2 linked regions of the Homo sapiens genome follow. The protein of the gene in region 1 interacts with the protein of each later gene in a pairwise test. Each region holds a gene or a part of one and is shown in the gene's direction. Other genes may lie near its edges. The genes, in order: OPA1 and TESC.

What was found.
Region 2: the proteins of OPA1 (region 1) and TESC interact in a two-hybrid assay, tested with the Homo sapiens proteins (one large-scale study listed by IntAct).

What each region holds. Positions count from the first base shown.
Region 1 is NC_000003.12:193,638,208-193,642,024, forward strand, and holds part of OPA1 (dynamin-like GTPase OPA1, mitochondrial), read left to right. Parts: intron 1-3,817. UniProt on the Homo sapiens protein: Dynamin-related GTPase that is essential for normal mitochondrial morphology by mediating fusion of the mitochondrial inner membranes, regulating cristae morphology and maintaining respiratory chain function.
Region 2 is NC_000012.12:117,057,869-117,061,685, reverse strand, and holds part of TESC (calcineurin B homologous protein 3), read left to right. Parts: intron 1-3,817. UniProt on the Homo sapiens protein: Functions as an integral cofactor in cell pH regulation by controlling plasma membrane-type Na(+)/H(+) exchange activity. Promotes the maturation, transport, cell surface stability and exchange activity of SLC9A1/NHE1 at the plasma membrane.

The sequences.
Region 1 (3,817 bases):
GTAGAAGGCACAGCCAGGAGGCCAGTGTGGCAGGAGCTGAGTGAGGGGAGAGTGGTAGGAGAGGATGACAGAGACCCAGTTGGGAGGCCTTTGGATTTTATTCTGAATAAGATAAGAGAGAAGTTAAGAGAATGAGAATATTGGAAGTGGAGTCAATGAATATAGATAATTTTCTAGTTTTATTGTGACAAAAGAGCAGAGAAATGAAGCAGTAGCAATTGAATATTGTTGAATTAAGGGAAGGTTTTTAACCCTTTTCCTGTTTAGAAAAAAAGTGCAGCTCAACACCAGTGCTCATTTAATTTTACGTAAACACACTCTCTGAAGCTGAAGCAAATCTGACTAATTTTCAATGTGAAAATAAAATATAAAAACTGTTCTTAGAGTTATTTCTAAACAGTACTAACATCAGAATCGTCCCAATCATCAGAATGTCTGTTTTTTAAAAGTCAGATTTATCAAATCAATCTTCGGCCAACAACTTTTTGAGAATGATGTAAACATCACACATAGGAATTCCGCATTTTCTAGGATTTGACATTTTCAGCTATTGAAAATTACTATATTTTGTAAATGGACGTACCGCTACTAAAAACAGAATGCTTGAAATAGAATGTCTTTTGTTTCCAAAGTCAGTACACTAGAGCTATGTGAAAATAATCATAAAAGTGAAGATATTTTATGGCAGAGTTATGTTGGGGCAAATGCTGCAGCTGCAAGCGGTGCTGGCAAATATTGTCGGAGCAAGTGGGAAAAGGATTAAAGATGTTTATATGCTGATTATAATGATCTAATAAAGGGGGGAAATGATGCAAGAGAGAGGGAAAATTGCAAGAGCAAAGTTACTGAGGTGAAGGAGATTGTGACTTGGTGTACTAGTCCATATCTGGGAGCACTGACAATTTCTCCAGGGTCACAGGAAGAAGGTATGGGGCTGCAGAGTCTTTCATTGAACAGATATTTACGGAATGCTTAATATGTACCAGTAGCATTCTAGGCAATATGTTGGTAAACAGCAACAACAAAGAAGAACCTTGCCTTAATGGAGGGTATGTTCTAGTAGAGGGAGACAGATAATAGATAATAAATATAATACATAATTGTATAGTAGGTTAGAAGGCAATAGTGTTGTACAACAAGAAAAAGCAGAACCAGGCAAGGAGAATGAGGGTGCCAGAGTATTCATAGATTGCATTGATAAGGTGGCATTTGAACCAAGATTTGCAGAAAGTGAGGGAGTAGTCCTGAGGATATCCTGTGTTCAGCAAGGAGAATAGCTGATGCAAAGCCTCTGAGGTGGTTGTGTGGCTGTCATGTTCAAGGAACAACAAAGAGGCCTGTGTGGTCAGGTCGGGGTGAAGAGCTAGCCATGGTCGGGGCAAATGATGACATTAGAGGAATAATGAAGAGCGGGGAGGAACAGATCAATAAGGCCTTATAGGCCATTGTACAGACTTCCGTTTTAAGTAAAATGGAAAGCCAGTGCAGGATTTCGAGCAAAGTAACAAAAGTGCCTTTTAAAAGGCTGCTCTTTTGAAAATAGTTGTAGCCAAGATGTAGAACCAGGGAGTCTAGGCTACTGGAGTATCCAGGTGATACTTGGGCTAGGGAAGTAGCAGTGAAACTGGTAAGAAATGGATAGATTATAAATGTGTTTTGAAAGTAGAATTAACAGGATTTCTTGACAGGTTTGATATGGAGAGGGGAGAGAAGAAAAGCAATGGGGAGAGAGAGAGAGAGTGTCAATCATCAATGATGCCTCCAGGGTCTTTAGCCTGAACAAATTGAAGGATGTAGTTTGCATGGAAGTCTGTCAGTGGATCAGGTTTGGGGGAAGAAGATCAGGAGTTCAGTTTTGGACTTGCTGAGTGGTGATAACAAGCAGTTGGGTATACAAGTTTAGACAGAGGTGTGGGCCAGAGACATACATTTAGGAGTCATGATCAACTATCTAAAAGTAGTATTTAAAGTCATGATCTTACTGGAGAAGATCTTCAAGGGAGTGAGTAGAGATAGAGAAAACACAGAAGCAAGCAGTATATTCTGGGCACTCTGAACATTAAGATGTTGAGGGAAGAGAAAATAACAAAGGAATGTGTGAAGGCCCAACCAGTATAGTAAGAGGGAAAGCAGAGCAGGACAGTGTGCGCAAAGTCAGGTAAACAAAAAGAAAACATGGAGGAGGAGGGAGTGCTCAGTGAGGTCACATGCTGCTGATCCATCAAGGAAGGTGAACATAGAAACCAGTCGTTGAGTTCACCAGTGGAGGCAAGAAAGGGGAACGTGTGGAAGTTTCCTTCTGATTGCTTCCGCTTACTCAGTGAAATACTAAGCCAGATGATCAGCTGTTAATTAGAAAGGAGAAGAGATTAAAGACTGAGGCAGGAAGAAAAAGTGAAGTCTGTTAACAGATCGTGGTGACTCTAGGAGTGAATCAGTGGAGAAAGTCAAGTGATATTAGGATTACTGAGGTGGACTGAAGTCCCTTTAAGTTCTGTGGACATAAATTTTAAATGAATCATTATGATTGTGTTTTGTTTTTTTCATGTTTAGCTGGTGGGGGGTAGGTGTAGAATAATTGGAAGATTGAAATTACCAAGAATTATGGCAAGAATAGTGGGAGAAAGACAGTGAGGCTGATGCTGAAATCTTCAAGAAATGAAATCTGTTTACAAGTGCAACAGGGTATGGGCAGCCTAGTGTGATTCATCTAGATTGCACTTTTGTGGGTCTAGCTATGGATTGAATCGTGTTATGTGTTACTAGTTCTGTGTGTGGTACTGTGTGACTGTACCAGACTTTACATATCCATTTTACTACCGATGGGAATTTGGGGTACATCTAACCTAGAGAAAAAAACAAAATGAACCTCAGACTACACCTCATATCCTGTTCAATAATCAGTTGTAAAAACATGGGAGAGAAACCTACCTTTTACATTGTTACTAGCATCCTAATTGTAGAAGCTGTGGATGATACTTCAAGAAGAAATTAATTTTGTTTTGGCAGGCAGGGTGTGGACAGGTTTCCTTGAAACAGATGAGGCTGGTCTCTTTCCGGTTTGTCATTAGTCCCTTAGTGTTTACTAGAGCTTCTCCTTGACCAACCCTGAATTCCAGTTTTTTGTTTCCCTAGAGCAGTGAAAGTGCCAAAACCCCAGCTTAGCATTTTAACCTCCTTAGCAGCTTCTTTCTGCTTGGTTTCCTAAAATGTGAATGCCGTGAAAGGAAATTGTGCGCAGGATGTAGGGTTTTGTTTTGTTTTGGAGGTTTATTTCTGCAGTTCATTTTTCTTTGGGATTGTGGCACCTTAAGACGTGACTACTTAATAACTCGGAATTCCAATCTTGTCTACTCAACCCAGTGAAACTGCTACACATTTTAAGTTTTTCTCTTGGGCCTTTGCCCTGTGCTACAAATCAGCAAATCCTCTGATGGAAAATAGCTAAACAGCTTTCCAACAGCTGTTTATTGTTTTTAAATTTAGCCTGTTTAGCTAATCTCAGTAGAAGGAATTGTATTTTTAAAGTAAAATAACTATAGAGAAGCTAGAAAGGTGTCAATTAGGCATTTAGAAGTTCTTGTGAAACCACTGACTGTTAATATACATTGCTATAACATTTCTTGGCTGGGTGCAGTGGCTCATGCCTGTAATCCCAGCACTTTGGGAGGCTGAGGAGGGCGGATCACCTGAGGTCAAGAGTTCAAGACCAGCCTGGCCAACATGGCGAAACCCTGTCTCTACTAAAAGTACAAAAAACTTGCCAGGTGTGGTGGCGGGCATCTGTAATCCCAGCTACTCGGGAGGCTGAGGCAGG
Region 2 (3,817 bases), on another chromosome or scaffold:
ATGTAGCAGGTGCCTATGGAGAGAGAGAGAGAGAGCAGAGGCAGCGGGCTTCAGAGCCATTTACACACCCACTGGGGGTTGTGAAGCCAGCACCTGGGGACACTGTGTCCCCAGCTCAATTCCTAGCAGGTCAAGCATGTCTTGTTGCTGCTGGTTGGGGACAGGCCTCTTGTGTTGAGTTAATTTCTTCTCCAGGCACATGGGTCAGGCTCTTCTAGGTGGTTTCTCCCCCACCTCTCCTCCCTCTCTCCTGGGACATTGGGGTCTGCTCTCCTTCCAGGGTCTGGACACCTGGGCCCTGGGGAAGGCACCTGGGGAAGGGCAGTGCCTCAGGATGGGCCAGACAAAGAGGGAAGCCCTGCGTGCAGCCATCTTCATTATTCGCTTCATTATTCGCTCAGCAAACCATTTATTGACCACCTTGCCAAGCCCAGCAGTGCAAGGCACTGAGGACGGGGTGCTGTGGACATCACAGGGTCCCCATCCTGCAAGGTGCCATCTGTGGTGCACTCCCAGTTCACCAGACACCGTGCTGAGCATGTTGCAGACTTTATCTCCTCTAAACTGTACGGCAACCCTGTGAGGTTCCTGTTTGCAAAGGAGTAGACAGAGGCTGGGTGAGGCAACGCCGTTTGACCCAGGTAGCAGAGTAGGGTAGAGCCCAAGTGTGATTCCAGAGGCTGTGCCCTTCACCCTCTGTCAGTATCAGTGTGCCCTCCTCACAGACGAGAAAACAGACTCAGGAAGGATTAGCAACAGCCAGTGAAAGCCAGAGAGGGTTTGGCTAGCAGCATAGCAGCCAGCGGCTTCTCTGTTCTCCCAGATTCCCTCTGGAGCTCCACGTGGTCCCTTTCTCAGGGATCTGGGCCTTGGAAAATGGATTCTATTCGGATGGCCAGGGAGAGTCGGGCAGCAGGGTATCTGGTAAGAGCATGGCTGTACGCTACCTGGCTTCCAAGCTGACTCTTCCATGCCCCCACTGGGTGAGCTGGGGCAGGTTGCCGAACCTGTCTGTGCTGAGCCTGAAGCGTCGTGGATAATAGGAGCCCTTGTGGGGTCTCTGGGAAGCGAGGTGGCTCCGGCCAAGTTGCTTGCACGGTTGTGAGCTGTAGCTGTCATTGTCATCCGATCGTGATTTCGTAGATCATCTCCCTGGTAACCCTGACTCATTCAGGGCTCTGGTCTCTCTATTCTGTCCCCTCCTGTGGTCGCCTCCCACTAATGAGGAAAAAGGGCAAGGCATCGAGCTGTCTCCGAGCAGTGAGGGTGTGACCTGCATACAGAAAAGCATGTGTCACACACAGAGGGACTTTGACAGACGGAACATGCAACAGAATGTTCCCGGCTCCCAAAAGGCCCCCATATTCCCTCTCAATCACCCCCAACTCTGGGGCGGTTCACCACCCTGACTGCAGAGGTTCGTGTTGTCACTTTCTGTTCTTTACATAAATGGAGTCATAGTGCAGTAGCACAGCAGTTCTTTTTTGTTTTTTTAAAGACTTATTAGAAAATTTTAACAGCTTTATGGAGCTGTAATGCACATATTATAAAATTCGCCCATTGAAAATGTACAGTCCACTTTAGAGCACCTCAGAAAGAAGCTCTGCACCCGTTAGCCATCACCCCGTCCCCAGCCCCTGGAAACCACATCTCTCCACTTTGTCTCCCTGCATTTGTCTTTTCTGGATGTTTCCTATAAATGGCATCGTACACCATTTGTGTCTGGCTTCTTCCACTGAGCATCATGTCTTCCAGGTATATCCGTGCTGTGGCATGGATGAGAATCTCGTTCCTGGACAGGTGCAATGGCTCACACCTGTAATCCCAGCACTTTGGGAGGCTGAGGTGGGTGGATTACCTGAGGTCAGGAGTTTGAGACCAGCCTGGCCAACTGGTGAAACCGCACCTCTACTAAAAATACAGAAGTTAGCTGGGCGTGGTAGCACATGTCTGTAATCCCAGCTACTCGGGAGGCTGAGGCAGGAGAATCACTTGAACCCGGGAGGCGGAGATTGCAGCCGAGATCCACTATGGAGCAGGCCCATGGAGATTGAGCCGAGATTGTGCCACCGCGCTCCAGCCTGGGCAACAGAGTGAAACTCTGTCTCAAAAAAACAAAACAAAAAACCTTGTTCCTTTTTATGGCCAAAAAATAATCTTATTTTTTTTTCCATGGCCAAATAACATCCCATCTCTCTGGGCCAGCTGTCCCGAGTCTACCTCCTTCTTTTGAACTGGGTTTCTGGGAATCTAAAACATGAGTCTGCCCTGACACAGCTACTGAGTTTGGCCAGAGGCCATGAGTGAGCCCAGCTGAAAGGCCTGGGTGGGAGGGACAGGAGGCCATGCCGGGGACACAGAGGGACCCGGGAATCGGCCAGGTCCTGCTGTGCCTCTCCATGCCTCCATCCCCACCCCTCCAATGCGTAAGGCAGGGCAGCACAGGGGCCACAAGGCGTTCACAGAATCTTCCAACCCAAACGGCGTAGAGTCCCTTGCATCTGTTTTGCCTCCTCCTCTCCAGCATCTGTCTGTCCTAGTGTTGAATCCCACTCCCAATGACTGTCCCGTCATCACTTCCCACCCGGACGTCCTCATTTTCAGTGGGCTGATACCCTCTGCCTTCCCTACCTGGGCCTGACACCTTTTTCCCTAGGATCACCAGCCTGTGTGCTGGGTCCTTCCCAAGACACTGCCCGTGGAGGCCCATGGAGCAGAAGGAAAAGGTGAGCAGGAAGCAGATTGAGAGAACCCAGGATGGCCTTCTGTGAAAGGCAGGGGAGGAGGGCAGGCAGGTGAGGGAGTGGCTGACGCCCCTGCCTGCAAACCTGCAGCCTCTAGGACTCAGCATTACCTGTGCCAGCTACAGGGTGTCCTCCTGTGAAATTCACCCTCCCCTCTCCCCAGCCAAGCTTTTTTTGCCTTTTTTTTTTTTTTTTTAAGAGATTGGAGTCTCACTGTATCACCCAGGCTGCAGTGTAGTGGCACCATCATAGCTCACTGTAACCTTGAACTCCTGGGCTTAAACAATCCTCTTGCCTCAGCCTCCTGCATTGGTTGCTAGCTGGGACTACAGGCGCATGCCATCACACCTGGCTGGCTTTTTTTTTTTTTTTTTTTAACAGCTTTACTGAAATGTAATTTACATAATACAACTTAGCCATTAAAATGTGCAATTCAGTGACATTTGTTGTATGTACAGAGTTCTGCATCCAGCACTGCAGTCAATATTAGAACATATTCATCACTCCCAAAAGAAAGCTGTACCCTCAGCTGGCACACCACATTCCCCTCTCCCCAACCCCCTGACAACCACCAATCTGCTTTCTACCGCGGTGTATTTACCTATTCCAGATAATTCATGTAAATGGAATTATGTAATATGTGGTCATTTGTAATTGGCTTCTTTCACTTAGCATAATGGGTTTTTTTTGTTTGTATTTTGAGACGGAGTCTCAAAACTCAAAAGTTTTTTGAGACTACAGTCTACCAGGCTGTAGTGCAATGGTGAGATCTTGGCTCACTGCAACCTCCACCTCCCGGATTCAAGCAACTCTTGTGTCTGAGGTTCCCAAGTAGCTGGGATTACAGATGTGCGCCACCACACCCGGGTAATTTTTGTATTTTTAGTAGAGATGGGGTTTCACCATGTTGGCCAGGCTGGTCTTGAACTCCTGACCTCAAGTGATCCGCCTGCCTCGGCCTCCCACAGTGCTGGGATTACAGGTGTGAGCTACGGCGCCCGGGCTCACTTAGCATCATGTTTTTTAGATTCATTTGTGTTGTAGCATCTATCAGTACTTGGTTCCTTTTTATG